Homo sapiens: one gene and its partners. The main gene of each other region encodes a partner of the protein of the gene in region 4 in a complex. Each region holds a gene or a part of one and is shown on either strand. Other genes may lie near its edges.

Region 1 (8,041 bases), about 62 Mb from region 4:
AAGCTGGAACTCATTTTCTTTTTACTGATCAGAGAAAAATAAATCTACAGTTTGGAATTTTTCTTAAATTAGAGTTATTCTAATCAACAGAATTTAATTCAACAGATTGTTTGAATTCAACATTGTACTTATATTGACATATTCCTGATTTGCTAAAAAATCTAACAATTACATTACCTGTGTGAGTCACCACTTCACTACCTTGCCAATTCCTAGCAACTTATTTATACAACCCAGAATTTCACTAAAACTTTCACATCAACTAACTCCTTTTTCACCTGCAGTTTTTTCTTTTAAAAAGGCTCAGATGACTATCTCAACCTTCTGTAAAGGATATTCCAGTAAGAAAGAGTTTTACATTGACACTCTTACAAATCTGAATAAAGCCAATTTGTACAAGAAAACATGAGAAGCTAAGCTCCAATGCCTTCCATCTAACACAGCAGGCTGACACCATAGCTGATACTTTTGAAACAGTTATTTTTATCCTTTGGTCTATTTATCACACCCAGAGTTGTACATTCTCATCACTAAACCAACTACGTTTTTTTGTAACAAAAAAAAAAAAAAAAAAAACAAGTCTGACAGTCAAAGCCCACTTAGAGGTTTGCAATACTTTCTCACTCAATTGCAACCCAACTGGGTAAAGTAGCAGTATTTACAGTGCTGCACTGCCATTGATACCATTCGCTGCTGAAGAAAGCTAGTGGCCCAGTGATAGCCCACTGCTGCTGCCTCAGGTCTTTGGAAGAAATCAACTTATGTTTAAAGCAGCAGCTACTGAACTGGAATTGAGAACAAAAGAGCAGTTATTGAAAAAGTAATATTACAATCTTTTAAAATAGGGAATATACTTGTGTGCTAATGGGAGAAGTCATTAGTAAATATTTAACTAGCCCAAATAGCTCACTTAATATAATTCCACAAAAAAATGAATTACTTTATTGTAGAAGCCTGTAAGGCTAAATTATAGGTAGTGTTACAAGTTTCCGTTAGCTAGTCAAAAACTGGCATTAATTTTACATTTCCTAAGAATGAGAACTTTCAAGTCATAAAAATACGAAACTCCTAGAGCCTGTAAAATAATCCACTTAATACAACTGATGACGTGCTAAATATTAAACTACTAGGTTCTGAATGTAAACCATTATCTTCCTGCTTTTAAAAAAACTAACCCAAGTTTTGCTGCACTTAAGCATTAAGACTTCTAAAAAAAAAAAAAAAAAAACCACCATCACCGCATTTCATAATTGGGGAGAAACAGCTTCACTTACAAGTATCAAGACAAACCACTGTGTCATCGAAGTGTTCATCTTCTTCTTCAACAGGTGGCTGAGGAGATTTGGCTCTGAAAGACAGAATTGTCTCCTGATACAGCTTTCCGATCAACGAACGAATAAGGGATGAGTAAAACTAGGTGAGCATCCTATACCTGCTATACTTGTTCTCTTCAATGTACTCAAAATATCCACGGCCATGATCTTCTCGTGGTCTTTTAACACCCCTCTTTTTATCTCCGCCTTTCTGTTCTGTTTTGCCGTCCCCTAAAACACACACGAGCCCCATAAAGGCCAAGCCTCTAAACAACAAAAAAACGCTTTTCCGTTCCGAGAACCAAAGCAGCTCGACTTTATCCTGCTTTTTAACTGAGGTTTTAACCGAGGACTCAAATGTGAATTCAAAGAACAATCAACTACGAATTCGATTGGCGCTAGTGACGCAGTCTAAAGACATTACTAATTTTGCCAGTCTCCTCGATGATTCGAGAAAGCCAAAGAAAAACTGCGCGGCCCAGGCCCGAAGCCCACGTGTATCCCGAAGAGAGCGCAGAGAGGGGGAGGGGCCGAGCCCGGCGCGGCGGCGCTCCCCTCCCCCGCGGGCCCGCGCTCCCCGCGGCCGCATTGTACTGATCTTCCGCCCCCCGCCCCGCCCCGCCCGGCTCCTCCCGCCGGAAGTGACGTCACGCCGAGCCCCTGCGCTCCTTGCACAATACAGCGGCGAGGAGCCGCCAAAGCGCGCCCGCCCCGGGACCTGGGGCCTCTCCCCTCCCCCCGAGACATGTGCCCGCACCGCGCGCACGCAGCGCGACGGCGCCACCGCGGGCCGACCGGGCTCCCTCCCGCCGCCCGCCCGCGGCTCCTCCCCCTACAGCGGCAGCTGCAGCTCCCCCCGGCTCTCGAGCCACATAATGGAGGCGCTGCCACCGCCGACACACACACACACACACACACACACGCGCGCGCGCACACACACGCCCCGAGCCCGAGGCCTCTCGGCTAATCTGGGATTCCCCGCGCCCCCTCCCCCACCCTCACCGCGGCGCCCTCCCGCCCGGGGCTCCCTCCCCCTGCGGGGCTCCGGCAGGCCTGGGGCACGGTCCCCACCCCGCGCGGGCCTCCCGCCGCGCGCAACGTACAACGCAGCACTCACCCGCCGCCGGAGCCCCGGGGCGACCGCCGCCTCCGCCGCCTTCCGCCTTCTTCTTACCTCCCGCCTGCTGCTGGCCCTGCCTCGCCCCGGGCGGCGCCACCGTCACCGCGAACAGCGAGGTGGGGCCGCTGCTCTTCCCCGCGGCCTCCTTGGCGGCCCCGCGCTGCTGTTGGGGCTGTTGCTGCTGCGTCGCCGGCGGTTGAGGCTGCTGCTCCCCGTGCCCGTTCTCGTCGCCCGCGCCTTCCTCTTCGTCCCCGAGCTCATCTTCCCCTTCCTGGAAACCCTGATCGTCGCCGTTCTCGTCTTCCGAGGCGGCCTCCTCCTCCTCCATCGGGCCCGAGTCGGCCGCCCCCGCGGCCCCGTTCTCCTCTCCTAGCTCCATCTGGTCGCCGTCCAGAGCGGAGATTCCTTCCTCCTCCTCTTCCTCTTCCTCCTCCTCTTCATCGCCGCCGGCCGCGGCCTCCTGCTCGAGGCCTGCTCCCGAGCGCCCAGCGGAATCCCCGCCCAGGTCTAGGCTGCCGTTCCCGGGCTCCATGGCGGGGCGGCCCCCGGCCTCCTCGTCGTCCAGCGCAGCCTGGAGTCGCTCCATGAGCTCGGCCTTGAGACCCTTGTCAGAAAGGCGTCGCTTCTTGAGCTCCTCTTTCAGCTCCGACACCTTCAGCTTTTTTACATTAACAGGCGAGGAACTCATGGTGAGGGCCCCGATTCACCGCTAGGCGCTGCCTCAAACTCGGCTCCGCTCACTCGGCCACTGGTGGCGGCTGCTGCGGCTGCTCCTCGGCCCGGGCGGCGGCTGCGGCTGCGGCTGGAGATGGGTTCGTGCTGCAGAGCGGATCCGCCTGGTGTCGAACGGCGCCAATTCCTTTCACCGAGTTCGCGAGGGAGACGCGGAGACTCGCCTGGCGCGAGCGAGCACGCAACGTCCTCTCGCAGGAGCGGCGCCGCGCACGTAATATAGGCGCCCCGCCCCCTGCGCTGACGGGAGCACTGCGCAGGAGGAAAGCCGGAGCGCGCCCGCGCTCGGCCCCGCCCATTACCGTACTTACCTCCCCGCCCCCACGCCGAACCCGGGCCGAGAGCGCGGTGGAGGCCGCGCAGTGCGCTTCCAATTGGGACTGAGCAAATGGAGGAAAAGGAAACCGCCTTTCAGTTCAACCGACTCACTGCATGATATATTGGCCTTTCTGGGTCTTTGGTGGCTATACTCGTTTGGCTTTTCTCCTTCCCAGCTTGGAGGCTGCTTTATCCAAATGCTTTCTTCAGTCCTCAACTTGGCGTTTCAACCCGAATCCGCCTTTTCTTCCATCTTAGATCTGCCTTCTTATGTGTTTCTCCAGCTCTTCGTTTAAAACTCCTTCAAATCGTATTTCAGTTTTGACTGGTATAGCATACATTGGCAACTGTTACACGCAGCGGCTCTTTTCCTCATAATACCGTATTTGGTTTAATTTGTGTAAGTCCTGCCTTGCGAATTGGATTTTAAGTTCGAGAAGGGCAAGGGCAGAACCGTTCTTTTGTCTGTTCCACACCCCGGGTGCGGGGCCTGGGAAGTAGAGGCTTTGCTTACTACTCCATACTGCAAACCTTAGTGTACCTGCCTTTGCAGGGCAGCTATTCTCATGCTCTTAATAACCCTGAATAAACCTCAGAATTGCATTTCCAAGTTTTCTGTAGCTACCACAAAGACGGACCTCCAGTAACACTTGTTCTGTCCACTTTAGGACCTGGTCATCAGCTACGAAGTCCCAGTAGCTAACCGTGAGGGTGAGACCCAACTAGGTCTTTGATTATAGGCCCACTTGATTCTCTTCCTATTCCTGTAGAAATACTCTTGACCAAATTATTCTGAAACTTAAAGTTTACGAAAAATCAAGGGCTGTGATTTTGTAAAAAGAAAAATGGACTATCGCTCTTGAAATCCGTTATTTTATATGTTAGAAGTTTACTTTTTCTCTTTAAAGAAAAGATGTGATGTCTCGAAGTTTTAGATAGGGAAGTCAGAATTTAGATTCGTGATAGAAGTTAACATTTTAAACCCTAGATAATCTGCAGTGTCCAGCCAGTGTTCCATCTGACTAAGGAGATGGTTTATACCCACTGTTTGGTGCTCTAGGTGGCACAATAATATTGCCCCATTATTAATTTGAAATTTGGAAGTAAACACATTGAAATTTCTCCCATAGGCTAATATGATTTAACTAATTGATACATTTTATTTTTGAAGTTTATTTTCGGTAGCTTTTATGAAGCATTCTACCATACCTTGCAGTCATGTATACGTGAAATATTAACACTTGTGAAATGATTTGACTTGAAATTAATGGACTATGTACAGTACTACTGATAATCCCCAGTTCAAGTTAAGTGGTGAGGATAGCCCCCAAAATAGAAACTTCCAAACAGTGCCAGAAACTCATTTTAGCCTTTGGTTATAATTTTGAAGGTTATGAATAAGCCACAAACTGGAATTTGAAATTTTGTCTTCGTTCAGAAATGGGAAGAGAGCTACAGGGGGTTTACATGTTCACAAACTAGATAACTAATCCCTTAATGAATCAGAGTTAAATACAATTATGATGGTTCCTTAAATTTATGTGTCCTAGATATTATTTACACCTTTAAATATTAGTTATATGAAAACAAATTTCATTTACTGGAAAACACTAAACTATGAAAACAAAGATTGTATATCTACATATAGTAGATCTGTAACAGTCACTCTTGGAACATTAAGTCAGTTGCAAAAATAAACATGAAATACAACTTTTGATGCTCACAAGAAAGTTCTATGGCTTTATCTCCAAAAGTTTTGGAGAACTTTAGAGCTGGATGGGGCCTGGAGATCGATCTGCAGTCCTGTTCATTTTACTGCCCAGGAAGCTGGGACCCTCACCCCCCACACCAATGGGCTTTCTATTACATTGTGCTGTCTTAGACAACATTTGAAAGAAAAACAATTTCTGCTCAAAGAACCATCATCATACTATCCTTTTCACAAACAGAGGAAATATGCCATTCCATAGTCTTATGTTACCACTTCAAAGTACAAATGGTGACATCTTATTGATCATTTTTGCTTCTTATATTTTTAATGCTATCATGATAGTCCTGCTCTACAGAGACCTGTTAAAGTGCAGGTCACTTCCTGTAAATCTCTGAAGGACCTCTAAGACAATTTAAATTCCCCCTGTGTCAAATCCTAGAGGCTACCAAGAATACCGCGTGCCGGAGGAGACAAGTTAATTCTCAATAACAAAAAATGATTCAAGAATGACCTATGAATAATTGATCTGTGAGAGGTAACTACAAAGTTTTGGTGCTCTGCATGTCTAGCTTACATTTTTGAGGTTTAAGCAAAGGAAATGCTATACTTTGTCACACAATTTATTCAGCAAATATTTTTTCAATACTTTCTCAAAAACATTTTATAGTCATAACGATGAGGCAGTTCCAGAGATCTACAGTTAACAAAGTATCCTGCACTTAAAAATTTGCTGGCCAGGCCCAGCGGCTCATGTCTGTAATCCCAGCACTTCGAGAGGCCGAGATGGGAAGATGGCTTGAGGCCAGGAGTTCGAAACCAGCCTGAGGAACACAGTGAGACTCCATCTCCACAAAAAATTAAAATTAGGTGGCTGTGGTGGTACGCCTGTAGTCCGAGCTACTCAAGGGGCTGAGGTAGCAGGATCACTTGACCCCCGGCAGTCAAGGCTGCAGTGAGCCGTGATTGTACCACTGCACTCTAACCTGGACCACAGAGGGAGACCCTGTCTCAAAAAAAAAAAAAAAGAAAAAAGAAAGAAAAAGAAAAAAACCCGTTAAGATCTTACGTTAAATATTCTCATTCCCCCCCGCCCCCCAAAAAAAACAAAACAAAACAAAAAACAAGATCGGGAGTGGTGGCTCACACCTGTAATCCCAGCACTTTGGGAGGCTGAGGTGGGCAGATCACCTGAGGTCAGGAGTTCGAGACCAGCCTGGCCAACATGTTGAAACCCCATCTCTACTAAAAACACAAAAAATAGCCAGGCGTGGTGGTGGCCGCCTGTAATCCCAGCTACTCAGGAGCCTGAGGCAGGAGAATCACTTGAACCTGGGAGGCGGAGGTTGCAGTGAGCTGAGACTGAGCCACTGAACTCCAGCCTGGGGGACAAAGCAAAACTTCGTCTCAAAAAAAAAAAAAAAAAAAAAAGGCCGGGCGCGGTGGCTCACGCCTATAATCCCAGCACTGTGGGAGGCCGAGGCGGGCGGATCATGAGGTCAGGAGATCAAGACCATCTTGGTTAACACAGTGAAACCCCATCTCTACTAAAAATACAAAAAATTAGCTGGGCGTGGCAGCGTGCGCCTGTAATACCAGCTACTCGGGAGGCTGAGGCAGGAGAATGGCGTGAACCCTGGAGGCGGAGCTTGCAGTGAGCCGAGATCGCACCACTGCACTCCAGCCCGGGCAACAGAGCGAGACTCCGTCTAAAAAAAAAAAAAAAAAGAAAGAAAGAAAGAAAAAGAAAAAGAGCCGGGAGCAGTGTGGGCTCAAGCCTGTAATCCCAGCACCTTGGGAGGCCAAGGCGGGCGGATCACCTGAGGTCGGGAGTTTGAGACCAGCCTGACCAACATGGTCTCTACTAAAAATACAAGATTAGCCGGGTTCGGTGGCAGGCGCCTGTAATCCCAGCTACTAGAGGGGCTCAGGCAGGAGAATCGCTTGAGCCTTGGAGGCAGAGGTTGCGGTGAGCCGAGATTGCGCCATTGCACTCCAGCCTGGGCAACAAGAGCAAAACTCCACCTCAAAAAAAAAAAAAAAGGGAAAATGAAAAAGAAAAAAAAGGACAAAGGTACACAAGGAAACTGTTGGAGGTAATGGATATGTTCATTTTCCTGAATGTGGTGATGGTAGCATGCGTGTGTATGTCTGTCCAAACTCACCAAATATGTATAGATTTATTAGTTATATGCAGGGTTTTCTTTTTTTTTGAGACAAAGTTTCACTTTGTTGCCCAGGCTGGAGTGCAGTGGAACCGTCTCAGCTCACTACAACCCCCGCCTCCCGGGTTCAAGCAATTCTTGTGCCTCAGCCTCCCTCGTAGCTGGGATCACAGGCGTTCACCACCACCCTCGGCTGATTTTTTTTTTTTTTTTTTTTTTGTATTTTTGTAGAGACAGGGTTTCACCATGTTGCCCAGGCTGGTCGTGAACTACTGAGCTCAGGCAATCCACCCATCTCGGCCTCCCAGAGTGCTAGGATTACAGGCGTGAGCCACCGTGCCCGGCCTATATGCAGTTATCGTATACCAATTATACCTCCATAAAGCTGGGGAGGTTGGGGGAGGAAGACAAAAGAATTCAGGCCTGCGGGGAATGATGGGAGTGGGTAGGAGAGGAGAGAGGGGAGAGAGGAAAACACAGATCACCAGCAGCCTCGTGGGTGGTTTTGTAAAGGACTTTGGCTTTTGCTTTCTGCTATGGACTGAACGTTTGTGTCCCCACAAAAGTCCTGTGTTGAAACCTAATCCCCCATGATATTAGGAGCTGAGGCCTTTGGAGGCAACGAGGTCATGAGCGTGGAGCCCTCATCAATGGGATTAGAAAATTTATACAGAGCTGAAGAGAC
Region 2 (7,688 bases), about 140 Mb from region 4:
TGGGATTAAGGTGATAACACGAGGAGCAAGAATCACCACTGGAGAAGGAAACGGATTTCCAGGCCTGCAGTGGCCTGCCTCACCCTCTTTACTCCGTCAGGTCAGAGTGAGAAAAAGCTCAGTAGTAGCTCTAGCGTTTAATGACAAAGGGAACAAAGGTTACAATGAACTGGACAAACTGGCTTACTGACTGTTAGCTTCTTGCTGAACTGGGGGCAACATATGCATCAAAGGATCCACATAAAATTAACTTTAAATCTGACCTGTAAATTATAGCTTGGATTATTATAAGAACATTTTTAATTGATGGGAACAGGATAATTAAAAAAACAGAACAGGTAAACTGTAAAAGCGACTTAAGGCAAGTGACTGAAAACTGACCTTTCAAGCTAGATGATTAGGATTGCCTAGGGAAATGATGGCTGTACCTAATGTCCATCTGTCCATAACTCCATAGGCACCACAAAAACAGATTACAGCCATCATTTATTAGTTCTGCTCTCCAATATGACTGAATTTCAAACTCTAAGGCTCTAAGGGGAAATACAATAAAAAACTGGTAGAGTAAGAAAGGCAAATACAGGCAAAGTCTAGAATAGTGATTTTCAACAGGGGCAATACTTCCCCTGGCAGGGTATTTAAAGTTTTTCCAGTCCGGGTGCAGTGGCTCACGCCTGCAATCCCAGCACTTTGGGAGGCCAAGAGTTCAAGATCAGCCTGGCCAACATCGTGAAACCTCGTCTCTACTAAAATTACAAAAAATTAGCCAGGCGTGGCTGTGTGTGCCTATAGTCCCAGCTACTCTGGGGGGTGAGGCAGGAGAATTGCTTGAAGCTAGGAGGCGGAGGTTACAGTGAGCTGCTGCACTCCAGCCTGGGCAACAGAGTGAGATTCCATCTCAAAAAAAATAAAAAAATAAAATTTTTTTCCAAAGATAGGGAGCACTATCTGCATTAATGGAAGTGGTGGGTGTTAGTTGCTAGAAGACTATGTAAAGATTTGGTATAGAAAGTAAATTTGTTTATTGTTATCTGAGTCATGTATGTATTTCTGTACTGTTTTAATACGCATTAAATTCACTAAAAATGCAGCTTCTGTGGAGAATTTTTCATTACTGATAATGCTACTCATGGTATCTGGGTAATACATCATTTCTTTATCAATCCATTTTGTGGTGGCTCTGACTGTTTGTTATGCCTTCTAATGTAGTTACAACAGGTATTCACATATCAATATCATCATACCCGGCAATAAAAATAATTAAAAGTAGTTACGTGGCGAGACCCTATATCTATAAAAAATAAAAAATTAGCCGGGCCTCCATTCAAGTCCCGGAAATGAGGGTGCAGTGAGCTATAATCATGCCACTGTACTCCATCCTGCGCAACAGAGCAAGACCCTGTCTCTGCACAGAGAAAGCACAAGGCTGCCATTACACACAGGGTAATGTCACTCCTGCAAAGACAGGGAGGTGTTTTGTGGGTACATAGATAGATATGTGAAACTAACACAGTTCACTGACCAGTGTCATGACAGTAAAAACAGTATTGCAAAAGGAATACTTAGCCAGGGCCTCAAGCTCAAGGTATTTACTGAAAACGTCCTCAATTGCAATAAAAACATTATACCATTAAAAAGAGTGATTTGTTGAACCAGTGATTTAAATGTATTGATCTGCTTTGAATTTGCAACCAGCCAGAATCTCTAGTTTAAACTGGCAGTTATAACAAAAGAGACCCTCAAATATTAGACAGCTGCAGTGCAGCTTTCTGGGTGCAGGTGTCACTCTCTGCCAGCCATCACTATTCTTTTCTGTTCAGTTTTTCTCTCAGGTGTTTGCTGGGAAATTAACACTGGAACTGACCCTTTTCCGGCAGTGAATGTAAGCTCTAGCTCCCCCATCTACTAGAAAGAAATGTCTTCAAGATGTAGAAATAAGGAATATTCTGAAAATAAAAATTATACAGTAGTAAAGATAATTCAGAAAGAAAAAGCTACCTGTTAGAATTTCCAGTCTAAATGGCACAGGGTAGTTAGGGAGAAAAGGGGTTGGAGAAAGAGAAACTATGACTAAAGATGAGAGGTATGAACAAGCTGTCAAGTTCCTATGGGCTAAAGCTGGGGCAATCAGGCCCTGAACTCCAAAGCTGGATAAAGTCTTTCTTTCTATTCTTCTTGGCCACCTGCACAGTCTGACACATACATATGTACAATTAGATTTGCAGGTCACAGGAGTGCCCTGCATTGTTTTAACTAGAAATAAAAAGTATTAGTCTAAATGTGGTTCTGGTGCCCTGTATATATGTAACAATATAGGACCCCCAAAATAGATTTTGCTTCTGGTGAATCTTATTCATTGGGTTAGTGTATGACTGTCTATAATATTTTCCATTTGTATTATTACATTGGGAAAAACATTTTTATCACTTTCTATTGTTAAGAAAATGGAAAACTTAAATATGGTGTTAAAAATGGAAATATATGTGATATTTGCATTATTAAACCCCTTTGCAGATCTTAAAAAAAAAAAAAGAAAAGAAAAAGAAATAACAGTACTCAATTTTTTTTTGAGATGGAGTCTCACTTTGTTGCCTAGGCTGGAGTGCAGTAGCGATCTTGGCTCACTGCAACCTCTGCCTTCGGGGTTCAAGTTCTTGCACTTCAGCCATGAGTAGCTGGGATTACAGGTATGCACCACCACGCCCTGCTAGATTTTTAGTCTTGACTCAACTATTAACAGCTGTGTAACCTAGGAAAGCTGCCTCATTGGCTTTTTTACCTGCAAAATGAGAAAAACTACACTAAACACTTAATAACTTACATTACTAAGGTAGGTACTCAAATCTTTTTAGTATTTATTGGGCATTTACTATTCACTAATACTAGCCAGATTTCTAAATTAAAATCTAATTGCTACCACTCCTATACTATGGCCTATCCAGATTGGTAAGGGTCTTAAAAATAGACAAAATGCAACTCAAAATGGGAAAACAAAGGCAAAAAAATTTAACTTCCCTGGAAAACTTTTTAGTAAGTCAAAAGACAATTACAGCTTGCCAGATAATTCTCCATGCCACAGGAACTAGGAATTCTAGCATTTGCTTTTCATGGCCCAATCCATCCAAACTCCCGGACTCTACTCCAGCATGTTCACCATGTTTGACCCCCCTCCCACTCCTTTTAAAACATAACTATCTTTATCCTAGCTGTATATCTACATAAAAAATAAGCTAAATTTTAGAAAACTTTTTTGCCAATCCACAGTATTGCCTTAAATAAGACTTATTATACATAAATTTATCCGTAACTAAATGCTCTTATACTACTACTTTGTTGCAGATCACCAGACCACACTAGTCTAACACCTTAATTCACGTAACTGCATACACTAATTTACAATCCTGTGGTTATAAAAACTCCAGGATTTACCATCTATATGCTCCATAACCTAAAGCAACCAGATACCAATTTCCAAGCCTTGTAGATGACTGTAAGATAATAATGTCCACTTATCTTTGTATTTCTTCTCTATTAAACACCCTTCACACCCAACAGACTCACTTCTGTTTCCCACATATTGTCTATGATTCTGCCTTCGGACAAACTGTATGTTTCCAAGGGCTAAGACTGGAGGGTAGCAAACTCAGCAACTGCAGCCCCAGGACTAGGGGGACAGGAAGGTAATACAGTGTATCCTTGAATAACTCAGTATCTATGAGGGTGGATAGAAGTTTGAGGTGCCAACCTGCTGCACAGTTGAAATCTGCCTGTAACTTTTGACTCTTCCAAAATTTAATGGCTTACTCGTGACTGGAAAGCCTTACTGGTAACATAAATCCTTAACACATTTTCTGTCTTATATGTATTATATACTGTATTCTTGCAATAAAGCTACAGAAAAGAAAATGCTAAGAAAGTTGTAAGAGAAAATACATGTACAGTACTGCACTTATCGATACGGTAAGTGTACATCTGTCTGAAAGGTAATTCCAGCTGTAGACCTCATCTATAGCACATATCGAGCAACTGAACTTTTTCTTACAATGCCATGACTTTTCTCAGCATCACTAGCGCCACTTTGCATGGGTCCCATGGTGCTATTGAAGACTTACAGTATTGCACTAAACCACAATACCTGTGTACTACAAGTTCTTTTTACTGACATGCAATTTACTGGAGAGATAAACTGTTCATGTGAAGATGATTAGCGTCACATGGCATTTTAAGGGGCTCACTGCAGTAGCAATAGGCAGTGGCTACATATTATAATAGTACAATATTACTACAGTGAATGTCGTGCAGTTATGATTTAATGCTGCCTGAATCTTTATGTTTGTTTACATTTCTCAACTGCAAATGGCTGTATTAACTTTCTAATGCATTTGTGTACATTTTATGGTAGTAAATAATAAAACAGACTAGTATCTACAACATACTCAACTTTTCCTTATTTTGGGGGATACTTCTTGGCTATGTGGTTCATCTGAAGTTTTCAGGTTGTTGCAAATCTCCAAACATTTTTCCAATATATTTATCAAAAAAAATCTGTGTGTAAGTGGACTTGTGTGGTTCAAACTCACATTGTTCACGAGTCAAACTGGATACTAGTTCTCTATCCTAGATTTCAAGAGTAAAGGATTGTACTTTGGGAGGACACAGGGAGTGGGACCTACTAGTATTCTCCAAGTCACGTATCAGTGACTTGGTGAACACGGATGACTTCTTGCCAGCTTAAGATCAATGGTTAATATAACCAGCATACAAATCTCTCCTAATGTCTCCTGCATACATGTCATTGATGTTTGTCTTTAGGGTTCCAGTTTGGAACCTTCGACATCTCTCCCTTAGCAGCACCTGCAGAAAAGTCTTTAAACCTTCCCTAGTGCCAAAACATTTTGTCAGTTATGTTACGGTCTACCCATGACTTATGTGGCTTAGCAATGGATCTACTGTGATCAAGTTAAGATCAGTGTGACTTTAACAGCCCAAGAGATTTTTGGTAATGACATCCTTCCAAAGGTTTACACTTCTATTAAGAACCACACATTTGGGAGGCTGAAGCTGGAAGATCACTTGAGCCCAGGAGTGCAAGACCCATATGGGCAACACAGAGAGACTCCACTTCAAACAACCAACAACCACACAGTAAGTACTTTACACCGCCACCTTTAAAAAAGAAAAAAAAATCACCCTTTAGAGGCCGGGCGCAGTGGCTCACACCTGTAATCCCAGCACTTTGGGAGGCCTAGGCGGGTGGATCACCTGAGGTCAGGAGCTTGAGACCAGCCTGGCCAACATGGAGAAACCCTGTTTCCACTAAAAATACAAAATTAGCCTGTGTGGTGGCGGGCGCCTGTAATCCCAGCTACTCGGGAGGCTGAGGCAGGAGAATCGCTTGAACCTGGGAGGCGGAGTTGCAGTGAGCCAAGATCGTGCCATTGCACTCCAGCCTGGGTGACAAGAGTGAAACTCCATCTCAAGAAAAATCACCCTTTAAAAAGGCAATATTCAGTCTTACCTTGCAGGCCATACAAAAAAAAAAGATTAAGGGAGATAAGGTGCAACATTCTCTCCTTTAATTCTTCACCTCCCAGTATCAGGAATTAAGCAAGTCCTTTTATTTGTATAGCTGACCTACATGCTAAACTAGAACTTTTAACAATCCCAAACTTCACAAAGTAGATAGTGAAAGGCAGAAAACTTTTCAAATCCAGGACCTAGCAAGTCAGCAGACAAGAGCCCCAGTGACATACTTGGATCATTTAAGAGTCTTTCAACGGCTAAAAATAATCACCCTAAGAAATTATCTGTAACTATGTGGACAACAACCAAATTGAAAATGGCTAGGGTCTATTTCAGAGACAGCATAAGAGCAGTTGGTGAACACTAACTCCAGAGTCAAAAAACAGTTCCAATCCTGCCACTTATCACCTATGCTTATGGGGACAAGTAACAACTCCTTTGTGCCTCAGAATGACAGTACCTACGCCTCAAAGGTTTTTAAAGATTAAGTAAATTGGCTCATTTTAAGCACTTACTATAGACCCTAGTATAAATACTTGTTAGCTGTATCTATTTTCACCAACATGTGTTGGAAGTCACCTATCAGTTATGTACATATGGAATCCCCACAAGGGAGCCCCCACCCCAAAGGGAGACTAAACCTGATAGGCGTGACTAAAGAGAGATAGCCAAACCTTTCCCTGGCTTGGTTTATTACATCTTCCTAGACCATGGGTAATAAACTCAAATGCATACACAGAGGCCAGGCGTGAAGGCTGTCGTAAAAAAAGTATACCCCACCTAAATGTGGTGACAATATGGCCAGGTGGTTTTTACTTATGTGGAAATACAGGCCCCCAAAGCCAGCTAAAGTTCAGATCTTAAAAATATAATAATCTGGATTACTTGGTGTTATCTCCTGAATTATAAATGTTAGTAATTAATCCCAATTCCTTTAAAAAATACTGTACTGTCTAATCAAAGCATCTGGGAGTAGTTTTAGCCAGAAGGTCACAAATTTGTGACCTCTGCTCCAAATTCTTTCACCTCAAAACATTAAGAATTATTAATTTAAACATTTTAAGTACTCTGGAAACAGAAAAATATTCCTATTCTGGTCACTATAAACTGTTGCCAATTCATGGTAATCTTTGGTGAATATGGATCAATACTCAACCACTAACAAAATTCAACAGTAATCTGGGGGGAGCTAATAAACCCCTCTAGTCACATTCTCCGATTATGTTTTGTAGACACAGTTCACAAAAGAATAACTCAATGAATTTCTTAGAATTTCTAGATTACACAGTCTAACAAAATAAAGCCAAAACTTCTGCTATTTTTAAAAGCTCTATGCTCATGTTACTTAGCACCTTCTTCACAATATAACCATCAGGGAGAAGCCCTTTCATGAATTAATTCTAACAAGGTTGTAACAATTCATCAGGTGGTAATTCAGGCTGGAATAAACACATTTACAATGAAATTATGTCTTTAAAGGCAGAAAATTTACATACAATATTGTAATTATAAAAATTCCTTACAATCCTAGCATATATAATCCAGCGCATCCAAAAACCCCAATTAAAAGTCGTCACAATAGTCATCCCGAACACTGCACCCTCTCCTTTATACAGAAAACAGCACGTTATGTGTCAGTCTGTCTCCCTCCCTCATAAGAGACAGGTGCCTCCAGCCAAGTCTATTTGTTCCACTACACGAACTACATATAGAACCAACTGCTAGCTTCCAAAGTGATTTCTTTTATCACATACATTTTCCTTAATTAAAGCAAATCTTCCCTGTATTTAATTGGAGTCAGATTTTACAGCATCTTATTAAAAAAGTCCCAGAATCATTAAAACCAGTTCAGAAGCATAAAGAACATTTTAACCAGTTAATTTGACAAAATAATTGAGGTTAGGATAGTCCAAACAAAGGACCATCAAAAGCCAATTCATAACTTGCCCTGGAGGATGACCAATTGAGTTGATTCCAATTCAGAATAGAGATATTCAATGAACAGTATCTCATGGACTAAATACTTAAAAAATGTAAAGATATTACTCTTATTCTGGACAAAACTGTTGATTTCAAAAAATGTCATAACCTATGCCTACTTAAAAAAAATGCAGCGAAACAAGGCACATGCTAAAACTTCTTCAACACATACAAAACCTGCAATC
Region 3 (7,059 bases), on a different chromosome or scaffold from region 4:
AGTGAAAAATTAAGATATAAAAATGATAAATTTTAAACCATTATAAATGGACAAATGCTGAAAAATAAACATTTACAAGTAAAATTAATTTTCTATGACAAGTGAAATTATTGATTTTTAATTTTTCTATTTTTTCTTTTTTCATTTTTTTAAACTTTTTTCTTTCCTTTTTGTCTTTCCTTTTTTTAACTTGGCTTATTTCTCCAAGAAAAATATTCTTTTATTTTCATCTTTAAAAAAGTTGGTTTATTCTCTCAAACTTTTTTTTTCCTCTCTGCATGTATTTGTATATTCACATTGGAGGAAAATGGATTATTATCCTATCTTTAAAATGGAGTCAAATGTCAGTGTTTCTGAATTCAGATAATTAAATTCCATAACTAGACCAAACTGTTCTCCAGGAAAAAATAAAGAAGAGGAGGAAGAGGAGGAGAACAAGAAGAGGAAGAGGTATAACAGTATTAATATTACTATGTAGAATATACAATATATATTATATACGATATGTATTATAAAGGATAATTATTAAAGAAAAAACCATTTAATCCTGTAGCTATATTTTTAACTCTTACACAAGTGTAACTCTGCACTAAAGATTTATCTGTCCCAAAGAAGCAATGTAGAAAAAAAATTGAAAATAAATACAATATTTGATAGTAATCTTTAATGTTAACAAAAACAAAGAAAAGAAAGATGAAAAGTTATGGTACCTCAAGTCTGCCCATTTTTATCCCTAACCTAGGAATGTCAGTCTAGATAAGAAATAACCCTTAATGTGAGTGCTGGGCTCATTCAAAAGGGAGAGATGAAACACCAATCAATGTGATTTAGTTCCCCCAACCCCAGCCTAAAATAGCCAGGTCACTAAGGCAAAACTGATTTGGGGGCTAAAAAGATCTGTATCTCACCCCTGTTGTCTCCTCTCTTGTATTCTTGCAGCCTTTGCAGCTTCTGACTATACACACATAAGCCTTTTTTTGGGGGGTGGAGAGGATTAGAATTCAGTAAAACAGCTGATTTTTTAAAAAGAACTAATCAGTTTCAATTTAGCAATTATTGGTAATTTTTAATTAAATATTTAAAAGGATTTAAAAATAGCAGATTGTTCAAGTGAAATTTATATATTCTCTTCTAACGTTATCTTAAATACATTAAAACTGATTTCAGCTAACATTTAGTTAGTATATTTTTACATGGAAAAAAATCAACCTGAAAGTGAACTGAATTCACTGATTATTTTTAAAAATGTTGTTTCCCATTGACTCTAGGATAGTAAAAAGTGGACTGCATTTTATAGGAGTTTAGAGGTCTGGATGGAGATTTTTATGGGGTGTAACTTGCTTTTGTTTTAGGCATACAGAGGCAGAGTAGTGGATATGTCCCCCAGGGAGACAATCTGAGAAGTGCTTTTATTAGCACCTAAAGATTCAAATTAAATGAAAGAAACAGCACTTAAAGTTTCTGGGAACTGGGATGATCTGCCTAGTTGCCCTCCTCCTTGTTCCCCAATATAACAGAAAAGATTTAAGGAGATTGGGGCTCCTCTTTAGGAAAAGGCCAAGAAATACAACAGCCTTTTTGAGACCATCTTTTAGCCCTTTCAAAAGTCTACACACATCACCAAGAAAAGTTCCCGGGCAACAGAGCCACACGTTCTGGCCAAGATAATTTTTTCCCCCCTGGACTCTAATTTTCATCAATTCTCTTTGCTGTGCTGTTTGTATTAGCTTGTTTTTCATTTAAAAAAATGTTTATTGAGTGCCTACTATGTGGCATGCCTGTTTCCTACTCATTGGTTTGTTTAAAAATAATGCTTGTGACCAACAGCTAAGTATTAAGAGTCAGATAAGGGGGGAGGGTCGGAGGTGTGTGTGTGGGGGTGAGACACAGATGTCTCCCACCTTCTTGGACAGAAAATATTCTCTTTCTACTCAACAACAAATAGCTCCTAGTACTTTAATTCTTGTTGTTCCATGGGAAAAAAAAATCACAAAAACAAAAATCCGACAAACACGTGGCTGGGTAGAACAAAACGCTCATTGGGGAGGGTGGGCTCTAAGGTGGTGGAGGATATAGAGAAACCGAGTTGGAAGCCCTCCCCCGCCCCTAAGTCCCAGCCCCATTTCTTTTCAGCGCGCCGGGAAAACGGGGAGGGGGACAAAGGTGCTGCGTGCTGTCTTTCAACTCCCGACTTTTTGAATGGCATACAATCGTCCGGCCGCAGAGCGGTGAGCCAAAGTCGGAGTCAGCTCAGACTCTGCAAACGAAAAATAATAACAATAAAAAAAATTCAAGGCATTCATATCGGTGTAGTCAACACGTGTTGCGGAGTCGGCCCGGGCCGCAGGCGACTGAGACAATGGGGTCGGGGACTGGGGAAGGGGAGTGACCCCCTTCCTCACCTGCCCTCCCAGCACGCGTGCCCCCGCTAGAATTATCCTCCCTCCCACAGAGTCCGGAGTAACACCCCAGTTTTCGCCCTGTTCAAGGGGATTCCAGAATTTCTGGGGGTCGACCCCTCCTTTTTCCCCGTTCCCTGGGCGAGGGGGTTCCAGGGTCTCCGGGCCGCGCTCTCGGCCACCCCTGGCGCCATCCCAGCCTCCGCCGCTAGAAACTCGTTGGCCTCGCTCGCCGCTCCGCCGTGGAGCCGGGGCTTGCCCGTGGACCGCGCGTCCCGCTCTCCGCCGCGTATCCGGGACTCCGAAACGCGCGGCGAGCAGCCCCCTCCCCCACCGCCCAGACGGGGTGCGACCGCCCACGTGTCGCCCCTTGCCCAGTCGGGTCCTTCCCTCGGGCTCCGGGAGCCGGAGGATCCGGAATGAGTTGGTCAAAGCCGAGGGAAGGGACCCAGGCGGATCCGCTTCCCCCTCCCCAGGAACGGCGGGAGGAGGAGGGGAGTGGCCGCCGCCCCCTCCCCTAAGCTCCCGCCCCTCGCTTCCCCGTGCGCGGAGCGGAAATTACCCCCTCCCCCCGCGGGTCTGACCTGGGGACGTGGGCGGGGCTTCCCGCTTAGCCCCCCGCCCTCCGTCCCTCTCCCGCCTTCCCGCCAGGATCGGAATCCTGCACCCCAAACAAAGTTCCGAGACCCGAACCTAGGGCCTAGAGAGCTGCCAGCAGTGTCCCGGGTGGTGCAGGCTCTGGAAACTCCACCTGTCTGTCCCCGACTCTGGGAGGGAAAAGGGGACCATTCAAATCTCCACCCGGTCACTCCCTCCCTAAGACCTCCCCCTTCAGTTCGCTCCGGTTAGCCCTAGCTATCACTCCTCTTCCTTGTCTCCCACCGTTCCTGTCTCCTGGAGTCATCTCCGGCCAGTTCCGCGTGTTCCCCTCAGGACCCCGAAACGTTATCATTTAACAGCCGGACCCCGGGTGCGAACCACCCTTTCTCCCGTGGGGATCTCAAAACATTATTTCCTGCGGCTTCCTCGTTCTCCACTGGGATACCCCGTTCCCAGCTTTCCAGTCCCGCGCTCGCAGGGTCCCCCGGTCCTGCATCCCCGGAGGCGGGGGAGTTTCGTGGGGCTGGCGTGGGGAAGGCGGAGACCCCCCCCATTTAAACATCTAGGGAAAAGGTTCCTTTCTTTTTAAATCACCAGCTCGTGCGACCCTCTCCTGAAGACCCCAGAGTCTTCGGCTTCTCTTTGTCTGTCTCGGCCGTCCCCCGCCTGTCAGTCGCTAGCAGTTAACCGGGGAGGGGTGAGCAACCCCGCCCCCCAAAACGAATGAAAAATAACCGTACATTTTACCCTTTAAGACATGTGAGATCTGGGCTGGACCATCCTCCCCCAGTTTGGGCTGGGGTAGGGGGATGGGTGGGGGCGGGGCGCTTCCCTAGGGGCCAGGTTCTTGCAAAGGGGGAAGGGGCCTGTAGAGCTTCAGGGACGCTGCCGCACCGCCCCAGTTTACCCCGGGGGTGAGTTGAGTTCCCCACCCTCAGGCGGGAGATTATCGGGTTTGGCCGGAGGGCCGAGGGGCCCTGTGGCGTCGGGGGTCTTTCCCTGCAGGGTGGGTGGGGGCTGTCACCACGTGGCTTCTCCTTTTTTTTTTTTTTTTTTTTTCCGCTCCATTTTTTTTCAAGTCGATTTTATTTAGAGGCGGCGCCAGGGCGGCCGCGGAGAAACGTGACACACCAGCCCTCTCGGAGGGGTTTCGGACCGAAGGGAAGAAGCTGCGCCGTGTCGTCCGTCTCCCTGCGCGCCGCGGGCACTTCTCCTGGGCTCTCCCCGAACTCTCCCGCGACCTCTGCGCGCCCTCAGGCCGCCTTCCCCGCCCTGGGCTCGGGACAACTTCTGGGGTGGGGTGCAAAGAAAGTTTGCGGCTCCTGCCGCCGGCCTCTCCGCCTCTTGGCCTAGGAGGCTCGCCGCCCGCGCCCGCTCGTTCGGCCTTGCCCGGGACCGCGTCCTGCCCCGAGACCGCCACCATGAACAAGCTTTACATCGGCAACCTCAACGAGAGCGTGACCCCCGCGGACTTGGAGAAAGTGTTTGCGGAGCACAAGATCTCCTACAGCGGCCAGTTCTTGGTCAAATCCGGCTACGCCTTCGTGGACTGCCCGGACGAGCACTGGGCGATGAAGGCCATCGAAACTTTCTCCGGTAAGAACACAGCCACCTCCCGGAAAAGCCACAACGAGAGCCCCGAACAACGGAGACCCGCACCTTCCGGTTCCTCTCCCGCCAACTCCTCTCTTCCCGGGCCTGCGGGGTTTGGCCTCCGTACCCACCCTCGACCTACCCCCTTCGATGCCCCCTCCCTCGCTCTGCGCCTCCCACCCCCGCGCAGAAACATTCGGGATTTCCTCATCCCTTTCTCCCAGCCTGAGATAAGGAGCTCTGGCTTCCCCCATCCTTCCTCCCCACCGACGGGGCGGGAGCCCCCACTGGCAGTAGTGGGGGGTTGAATTTAGGGACACGGGGATGACCCCTGGCTGGGCGTTATTTCCACGCCCAGCCCCTCCCTATCCGCCGGTGGACGCCCCCCCAGCTGGAAAACCCCGGCTCCCGTTCCTCAGTCTTAGGCCTTTCCAGGCGTGGAAGGGGTACCCGGACCGCCTGCGATCTGTCCGCTTCGCGTGGGGAATGCAGCCCTCCAGCAGGACTTGCAAGGAAGGGGGTCTTGCCTCCCGCCCAGGGCCTGGGGCTTGAGCCATTTTGATTTGAAAGTGGGGCGTGAGCGGGGTGGCGCGGCGGCGGCGGCGCCGGGTCGCCATGCTGCTTCCCGAGACGCCGAGGCTGGGCCGAGAGGCGCGCGCGGTGGCAGTGAGGGACCCTCCCCGCCAGGCCCCGCTCCGCTCCCCCAGGTCCACCCCTTCCCAAACCAGCCCCGACAGGTGACCGCTCCGTGGCCCAAAGCCCGTCTTCCTGGCCAACAGAGAAAAATAAAGTTTCATTCTGCACACTGCCTCCCGCCCCGCGCCCCACTTTCTGAGGAACGGGGAGCCCTTTCTTTCCTGGCTCCTTCCCACATCTGGGAGCTGTGTAGGCAGCGCACCCACACAAATGGCCTCGCACCTTTCCCAAATCGGGATTCCAGAGCGATCCACTCAACAAGCCTCAGTGATTTAATAAAGCAAAAATTAAAAAATGAATAATAACGAATTTACAGACTCCACCATTCCTAGAGCAACCTTTTTCCCATCTGGATGCGGAAGCCACTGCCTGGATTCCTAGGAAGATCTCGAATCCCAGTAACTCCTGAATTATCCTAGTGTCTTTTCCCCTTCCTCTTCCCACCCCCAACCCCTGTTCAAGCTCTCATGGTAATTTTTTTTTTTTAATCTTTAGGGAAAGTAGAATTACAAGGAAAACGCTTAGAGATTGAACATTCGGTGCCCAAAAAACAAAGGTAGGAAAGAGCTCTTTTCGGGGGGGGTGGGGGGGCCGCGGGGGTGTGCTGTGAAGCTGTGTTCAGGGGTCCATAGCGTCTCCAGTGGAAGAAACCCATTACTGGTCTTTCCCACCCCCAACTCCGGATGTTGGGGGCAGGGAGGGAAGATTGGCCAAGATCTTGTAATGGGTGGTTTACAGCTTGTAAAAAAAAAATAAATAAGTTGGGGCTGGGGTAGGCTAAAAGATGTTACTTGCAGAATTAAAGGGGAAAGAAAATCAATAGGGGAGAAACCTTGTGGAGTTTGTTTGTTCAACTCGTGGGGCCGTTTTTTGTGGGGGAACCTTAAAATCTTTGAAGAGTTCAGACTCATGGCGATTTCTGCAACTTCGTAGCAGGCCTCATTTTCTGTTTTTCCCACTCTTTCCACACCATAATTCTTAAGTGGATTGCCCTTCTCCCGAAGCGATGTGGAATGAGTTTCCCGGCCCCCAAAGAATCCCCTTATGCTTGTACTTTATTTATATTTCTACAACAGGCAAAGACTTTTTATTTTCCATGGACCCCCCACCCCCAATCCCTCATATCTCACATCATCCCTCTCCCCAGCTGGATTTTCCAAAGAATATGCCTTGGCTGTACTATCCTTTTCGAGCCCCCCTACCCCCACTCCTTCAGCCCATTGTTACCAGGGGACCATCTGGGGTGAGAGCTTTGTGTTGAGGCTGTGAGCTGGGGCTCTTTGGAGGGTCTAGAACTCCGTGGATGAATGGTGTGTGTGTGTGTGTGTGTGTGTGTGTGTGTGTGTGTGTTCGTGTGTGTTCCAATACCCTCTATCCTCTCTCTTCAGCAAAATGGGGTACCTCCATCATACTTACCGAGAATTCATGGTGGATTTCAAATCTTGCATTGAACTCTGAAACCTTTCCTTGAACTCTGGCTGGGAAGTATAAGGGCAGAGTCTTTCTACTTTCTCAAATCAGACTTTAAACATGTTGACAGTGTAGAGTTTGCTCTCATGTCCCAAGCTGGAAAGCAGCCCCCAGTAAATCTTTGATCTTCCTCACCCCCCATTTCAGCTGAAAACTTGGTACATTTCAGGATAGTCTCTGGCCTTTTCCGGGTAGATGGGAGATGATGACTGCTTTTTCTGGGGGACCATTAAGAGGGCCTAGAAAGTTTAATGTGAGATAAAAATCTGTTCAGTTGCTTAGCTTGATATTTAAGTAACTT
Region 4 (7,688 bases):
AGAAGTATATTGGTACTCACCGTGTACTGCCAATCATAAGGTTGATACCAGCAGCTGAGGGTCTAGAGATCTGACGGATCATGTTCAGCATACGTTCATTTACGGGGTCCAACTGGCTGATGATAGCAGGTTGTTTGGTTACTTCAACAACCAAAGCCTCCATGGCTGCCCGGAGACCAGTGATACAGGCAGCAGCTTCATGAGATATTTGCAGTTTAATCCTAAAGTGGCGAAATACATTAAAAATAAGAGAGGGAGTATATGTAGAAAAAGACCATTATCTCTCAACTTCACACATGGCACATTATAGAATAAATTTAACTTCTTAAGCATTAATATTAAAAAAAAAAACTACTTATAATGGCCCCAAACTTAGGCAAACACAGATATGAAGAGTAGTTATAATCAGCACTAGCTTCTTAAAATTCACTGCTAGCTATGAGCAGGAGTCTTAAGCCAAAAAGTCTATCAAGCCAAATAAAATATAATAAAAATATATGCAATATATAATAAACAAAAAACAAAGTCCAGCAATATGGATCATTCAGACTTTCTTTTTTTTTGAGACAGAGTCTTGCTCTGTTGCCCTCGCTGGAGTGCAGTGGCGTGATAGCTCATTGCAACCTCCAACTCCCAGGTTCAAGTGATTCTCCTGCCTCAGCCTCCAGAATAGCTGGGACTACAGGTGTGCGCTACCACACGGGGCTAATTTTTTTGGATTTTTCGTAGAGACAGGTTTCACCATGTTGTCCAGGCTGATCTTGAACTTCCTGAGCCCAAGTGATGTGCCGCACCCAGCCAGATCATCCAGACTTTAAAATAATGAATTTAAGAGACCCAGAATACTGGCATTTTCTAGGTTTTCAAGAATATGATGGCTGAGCCTACTGGCTGTCCATTAAGCTCTATTCCATTTTTGCCCAGTGCTTACCACTAGTTTTGAATCAATATACAGAGTATGTGAAAGGGTACTCAAGCTTCACTTAGATTCTGATTCCATAGTGGTGGTGTGCCTAGTGGTAGACATGGCTCAAATTCCTAATGCATTTGCTTCTACTGGTATCAATTTAAGATTAAGTATATAGTATATAATTAAGTTAGATATAATTAGTATATAATTAAGTTAGATTAGCAGCTGAATTCCATCATATTGTAATTCTAAGAATTCAGTTTGGAGTTCACATCTGAAAATCCATACCAGTCATCTACAAGCACAATCTGCCCATCAGATTGGACTTTCTTGGAGGCAAAGAGAAGCAACTGCAGGGGGGTGACTAAAGTCATGCCTTTAGCAGAGATGGCTCGAGTTCGAATCTGCAAATGGAGAAAGAGACAATACAAAATGGTTGACATTCCAACTTCCAAATACCGCTATATACTGTGCTTTGAAAATCAAAATTCATGTTCCTAATGATTGTAAAGACAATTTCAACTTTCAATGTAAACTTTTCTAGTCTTTTCTTACCTTTTCACCAAATACAAAGAAGGGAGATGGGTACTTCATGTCTTGGCTACTAAAAGGACAATTAACAGATGATTTGTGGATAAGTGCATTACGCCCTTCAGTGGTGAGAATCTTCCTCTTTTCCTTATGATAGCATACATTGGGGTACACACCAAAGGCCAGGAGGGAGATAACAACATCCAAATTATTATCTGGTCCAGTGTTAGTAAACACTTGTGTCAACAAACAATCTGTTAAGAGGAGCACAGTGAAAACAAAAATCAGATAACTGGCTGATCTTCACATTACATGCAAACTATTTAAGATAATTCAGAGAACTGACTCTTCCTCACTCTTTTCACATAACCTGTCTGTAAAACTTTCTCTTCTCAGAATCCTTACACCCAGATTAAGTTCAAGGAGTAATGTTACTGAGTTTCCACAATAAGAAAACGAAAACGTCTCTATTCTCTTATAGACTCAACCATAAATAAGCTTGGGGTGATTACTTTTTTTTTTTTTTTTTGAGACGAGTCTCGCTCTGTCGCCCAGGCTGGAGTGCAGTGGCGCCATCTCTGCTCACTGCAAGCTCTGCCTCCCGGGTTCATGCCATTCTCCTGCCTCAGCCTCCCAAGTAGCTGGGACTACAGGCACCCGCCACCACGCCCGGCTAATTTTTTGTAGTTTTAGTAGAGACGGGTTTCACCGTGTTAGCCAGGATGGTCTCGATCTCCTGACCTCGTGATCCACCTGACTCGGCCTCCCAAAGCGCTGGGATTACAGGTGTGAGCCACTGCGCCCGGCCGGGGTGATTACTTTTTAAAGTCCCCCAATCAACCATCTACTCTGAGAATAAGAGCTTGACTGATAGGACCACAAAGTATTTATCTGCTACTCTTAAATAGCTGTTAGTTGTAGAGAAGATGGAGATAATCTAAGAGGACACCTACTGGAATGAAGGCTGACGTTTTTACCCAGTCTACACTTTGAGTACTTAGCTACTGACTGGAAAGCATGACAGTCAACCGCTGAAAGCACAGACATATTTTGTTCTAGACAAACGAGTTCTAGTCTTATAGCCTCCTAATTGGATGAATTAAAGACAATTTATACCTTGGTGCCTGTTTCATTACCTGTAAAATTCATCTCAAGATTCTAGCACATGAAGTTTTCCCTTTCTTATAATTTTGAGGAAAAACTAAAATTTCGGCTGGCTTATGACAGAAGAGAACCACTCACTACTTTGTTTAGTTATTCCAATTACAGCCTTTAAAAATTTACCATCTTGCCCAACTACCTTCTGTCTCTCAACAGTCTTATTTCTGGTTATGCATTCCAGTTCTCAATGTTTTAGGAAGTAATTCTATATTTTAACCTAGTTGGAAAAGAAAAGTACTACAGCTCATCAAGAAACATGGGTTGGTTTTTTTCTATGTTAGATGTCATAAAGTCCTTTAATCATCTGTACACCGAAAGTATAAATTAAAGTCATTTAAAATTTAATGTGGTAGAATTTACTTCAAGTCTAAATGCTAATAAATTACTTTGCAAACCACTATAAGGTTATCAGCAAAGTACTCATTCTGGGAACTAGACCAGTGTTCACGAGAACTAAGAAATAGTCGGGAATATATAAAAATCATAGGGTCTAAAATTTGAAACTAAAATACACTTTGCTGTCAATTTGCATGTACTATATAAATGTCACTTTAAAGATATCTTAAGAATGGAAGAAGTCTTACCTTCTGGAAACCCAGAATTAATCAAAATCTCTTTGAGCTGAACTTTGGCTTCCCAAGTCATTCTTAGTGTAGCCATATTAAGTCTTTTGTGCTCACAAAAACGTATCTCTGCTTCTTCTCCACCCATTCTAAAATAAATTGGCATGAGAAATCATTCTCTAAGACCAGAGAACTAAATACAAATGAGAAACTACAGACAGCTCACCCAAATCTTACTCATACCTAGCATCATCCCAGGCTTGGAATACTGATAAAAGGGCTACGTGATCAGAAAATCTGTTTCCAGCAAAATTTCGATGGATATAGCCCAGCCGCTTTCCTTCATTGATGAAAGGCTCTGGAAAGCAGGTAGCAGCAGCAATGGTACAGATAGCATCTCCCACGCTGAAATACACAAAGACAGTTAAATCCAGACTAGATCACAATGTTGTTGCCAGCAGCTCAGGTAGGACTGTCGACTGTGGGTTGCAGTCTTTATGGCTATGATTCTACTTTTATTTGCAATGAAACTGGCTTAACAAAGAACTTTATAGCTGCTCTCTTCAGAATCAGAAAGAAAAAAATGCTCTGATGCTCTAATGGCCACATATTTATCATAAATTATGACCAAGTATATTTTTCCTTTTATATTCTCTCTTCCCCATCATACCAAATCTCTTAATCTTCAACATTTTCTGATAAAATAAACCTCTTTTCCTGACACCGCTCTTTCAAGACCAACTATTAATAACAAGGGACCCTCCCACCCTGGCCTCCCAAAGTGCTAGGATTCAAGGTGTGAGCCACATTGCCTGGCCTGCTTGCTTTTAACTTTTGAGAAATCAGTGCCCTTTTCCCCATATTGGGCCCAGATATCCACCTACTGGAACTGTTCATTTTTTTAGTGTTACACTGCTCTCAATATCTAGGTATGTTACTTCCCTGAAGAACATTTAGGATTTTTTTTTTGTCTATCTGAGCCAATACTGCTTTTACAGGGAGGAGAAGATTCTGAAATTATTCTGCCACTTAACGAAGAGAAATAAAACAAAGCACTTACTAGAAAATACACCCCATTATCATCATTTTGCCAAAACGAGGCTCAATGGGGAGTTTAGCCAGGATTCGTCCCAAAGGAGTCAACTCATCATTGGCATCTAATGCATCAAGCTCTGTGGGGAGATAGTTCTTTGTGAGCAGAAACAAATGAACACTAATTTTAGGCAGACAAAACATTACTCTAAATTAAGGTTAAGACAGTTTAGAGTTCCTCTTTTGTCAAGCCAATCGCTAATACCATGTCTACGGCCAACAATTCTCTGTACTCAAAAATAGAACAAAATCAAAATCTGGAGCACCCAACATAAAGGTACTACAACTAAATCCTGTAGGTTATAAAAACAAATACAATTCATATGAAGTCTATAAATACAGTATTAACTATAATAGCAGCGTAAGTTTCTACATGCCATAAGAAGTCTGATACCCAGCTGTTAATGTTTTAAAAAAAATAAAATCTAGAGAAAATTCTGAAGTTACATAGTAGATAAATGCTAGATTCAAAATTCAAATTCAGATCTAGCTCCAATGCCCTTAATTTTCACTGTACCTCTAACAAGTTTAGCAAGAAAAAATAAATGTTCCAGGCTGGACACAGTGGCTCCTGCCTGTAATCCCAGCACTTTGGGAGGCTGAGGTGAGTGGATCACTTGAGGTCGGGAGTTTCAGAAGAGCCTGGCCAACATGGTGAAACCCTGTCTTAGTAAAATATAAAAATTAGCCGGGTGTGGTGGTGTATGCCTGTAGTCTCAGCTACTCGGGAGGCTGAGGCAGAAGAATGGCTTGAACCTGGGAGGTGGGGGTTGCAGTGAGCTGAGATCACGCCACTGCACTCCAGCCTGGGCAATGGAGCGAGATTCCGTCTCAAAAAAACAAAAAAAGTTGTAAGAGATTCATATGAAATACTGTGGGTATCATGAGTAAGTTATGTTCTGATCTTTAGTACATAGTTAAGAGATGCCTTTTTAAGTTTTCTTTTCTTTTTTAAAGACTCACATTGTCCCTTTCTTCCTTCTCATTGCTCATTAGAACAGTGACTATACTAACTATCTAAGGTAAGACTGGAGGCCTTACTATTATTATCACAGCCCTGTTGACTACATCTTCATCATCTTGATTCATTTGTAAGTGTTATCTGCCAGAACAAGACAGATGGTATGATTAATATCTGCGTCAAGTAGGTTTGTATTTGTAAGTACCTCTAAGAGTGTGTTCTGCTTCAATCACAGCATCCAAAGGGGGAGGTTCAATTGCTTTGGCCAGAAATTGGCCAATTCCTCCTAGACGCAGAAGTTTTATGCTAAGAGCAATTTCATGCAATGGTGTTCGGAACATCTCTGGTGTCATGTGGGTTTCAAGTCTAAGAGAAAATAAGCATAAAATAACCATCCTCCTTGTGTATACACAGATGTTAATAAACTTTTTGCAGCAAGGTAATCAGGGATACAGAGCTGCCTTTTCCTCATCCTTTTATTTTACAATTACCATCGGACCTTTTATCGTTCACTATACACACTGTTGACAAAATTTAATCTGGTTGCATAGTGGTTTCTGACTTATCCTCACAGCTTGATAGCCTTTTAGGCTGAGAAGAAAAATGAAAAAATTATCCAAAATCGCGAATGTTATTAGCTCCACCCATGGTCTCTTCAGGCCTTGCCTGTTGACAAACATGGGTTAAAAACGACAACAAGACTTTTTGTAGGATGATAACTCATACTAACATTTCTCTACAACCTCCCACCTTCCTAGTTCATGTAATTTTAGTGCCACTAGAAAGGCTCTTATAGATGTATCTTTAAAATCCAAAACTTTTTGACTTCTGACATGACACTTAAAGGAAATGCTCATTAGAGCGTTTTGGATTTCATATTTTCAGATTAGGGATGCCCGACTGGTAAATACAATGCAAATATTACCAAGAAAAAAAATCCAAAACCACTTCTGGTCCCAAGCATTTCAGTTTTAAAAGAGATATCTGACCTGTATAAATTAACAACAGCAAACACTTATTGGGAGATCATGATGTGCCATACACTGTTCAAAGTATTTTACATTATTAAATCATTTAATACTTATACCAACCCTATGGGTTAGGCATTATTTATATTCTTTTTACAACTGAGGAAACAAGAGAGGTTAAGTAACTTAATATTTTATAGAATGAGGGAAATGCAGGCCTAAGGAGTAACCACTTAGTGTTATACAATGTATTAGGCACAAATAATATTAAAATCTAGGTCTCTATATTTCTAAATCTGGCTTATTCTCTAAATGATTTGTGATGAAGATTCTTACGAAACATTTACACCTGATTCCAACATGGCTGGCAAGACTTAGATCAGCTTATATTGGCAGGTTTACATAACTGCACACATCTGTCCCTACAGAGAACAGAACAAAAATCCCTTACTAAAGGTCAAGAATGGGTCTTACCTCTCAAAACGAGCTCGGCTGCACAGGTGAAAGCAGAATCCAGGCCGTACTCGGCCAGCTCGCCCTTTCCGTTGCTCAAGGTTTGTTTTTGATGCCCATACGGTAGCATAGTTGGTCATATTGTTGTGAGCAGTGAAGAGTTTCACTTTCTGCCTACATAGGAAAAAGTGGTTAATTCTAAGACTCATGTGTATTATCAATAACTATTATATATCCACTAAGTAGTGAATGCTTTCCACTATGTAGTTAAAGCCATACCTACTTGTGATGTCTATTCATGAATGGCACAAGTAAGAATCAGCAATCTGACTGCAAACTCCTAGTTGTCAACCTACTAAAAGGCAATGTAACATCCACTTGCCACTTATCAGCTGAACTGCCTTGGCCAAACTTTGCATGCCATTATCTACCTTATAGTTTTTTTGGTAAACATTAAATAAATTAACAAATGCAAAGCATTTAAATGGAATATGGCACATACACAAAAGAAAGTAATTATTTAAGTCATCTCTATTCCAAAGTTTAGTGTAACTTTTAGGATATCTGTATCTAGTGATGCCTGTGTGGTCCATTTGAACCCCCAAGTAACCTCAGATTCCTTCAATGTTACATACAGAGACAGCTGCCACTAAATGACTGGGATTGGCACAGAATGCTATTCATCATTTCCTAAAATGGATGTTGGCAGCAAATTGTTTTCATTGTCAGGACAGACTAAGGAATTATAAAGAGAAGTCATGGGGTACAAGTTGGCCAGATATAACCAAGTTTCAACTTTTTTGTCCTTTCAATTTATCAATTACCATGTAATTCCTGTATCTACACAGAATGTCTCCTGGTATATTTTTCCAGGCTCATCTCATACCAAAATGAAGACCCTTAATCCTTAAAGGAGTGTCCTTCAAGGTAGGATATTTGTCATGTGCTAAACACTGGTCATCTTTATTCATCAAACAGCATGCTATAGTATGGCAGTGATCAATGGAAACACCCAATGGGAAATAAGTGAGACACCAGCAGCCAAGAGC

Evidence for each region.
Region 1: DHX9 (region 4) and HNRNPU share a complex: the UniProt entries of both Homo sapiens proteins name them as parts of the coding region determinant (CRD)-mediated complex.
Region 2: DHX9 (region 4) and YBX1 share a complex: the UniProt entries of both Homo sapiens proteins name them as parts of the coding region determinant (CRD)-mediated complex.
Region 3: DHX9 (region 4) and IGF2BP1 share a complex: the UniProt entries of both Homo sapiens proteins name them as parts of the coding region determinant (CRD)-mediated complex.

The regions. Positions count from the first base shown.
Region 1 is NC_000001.11:244,861,187-244,869,227, forward strand, and holds the start of HNRNPU (heterogeneous nuclear ribonucleoprotein U), read right to left. Parts: upstream 3,296-8,041; 5' UTR 3,122-3,295; coding exon 2,431-3,121; intron 1,545-2,430; coding exon 1,433-1,544; intron 1,349-1,432; coding exon 1,275-1,348; intron 1-1,274. UniProt on the Homo sapiens protein: DNA- and RNA-binding protein involved in several cellular processes such as nuclear chromatin organization, telomere-length regulation, transcription, mRNA alternative splicing and stability, Xist-mediated transcriptional silencing and mitotic cell progression.
Region 2 is NC_000001.11:42,685,092-42,692,779, reverse strand, and holds part of YBX1 (Y-box-binding protein 1), read right to left. Parts: intron 1-7,688. UniProt on the Homo sapiens protein: DNA- and RNA-binding protein involved in various processes, such as translational repression, RNA stabilization, mRNA splicing, DNA repair and transcription regulation.
Region 3 is NC_000017.11:48,993,326-49,000,384, forward strand, and holds the start of IGF2BP1 (insulin-like growth factor 2 mRNA-binding protein 1), read left to right. Parts: upstream 1-4,059; 5' UTR 4,060-4,420; coding exon 4,421-4,595; intron 4,596-5,783; coding exon 5,784-5,844; intron 5,845-5,943; exon of another isoform or gene 5,944-7,059. UniProt on the Homo sapiens protein: RNA-binding factor that recruits target transcripts to cytoplasmic protein-RNA complexes (mRNPs). This transcript 'caging' into mRNPs allows mRNA transport and transient storage.
Region 4 is NC_000001.11:182,877,146-182,884,833, reverse strand, and holds part of DHX9 (ATP-dependent RNA helicase A), read right to left. Parts: intron 6,814-7,688; coding exon 6,661-6,813; intron 5,585-6,660; coding exon 5,424-5,584; intron 4,338-5,423; coding exon 4,226-4,337; intron 3,571-4,225; coding exon 3,409-3,570; intron 3,315-3,408; coding exon 3,187-3,314; intron 1,696-3,186; coding exon 1,466-1,695; intron 1,315-1,465; coding exon 1,199-1,314; intron 222-1,198; coding exon 21-221; intron 1-20. UniProt on the Homo sapiens protein: Multifunctional ATP-dependent nucleic acid helicase that unwinds DNA and RNA in a 3' to 5' direction and that plays important roles in many processes, such as DNA replication, transcriptional activation, post-transcriptional RNA regulation, mRNA translation and RNA-mediated gene silencing.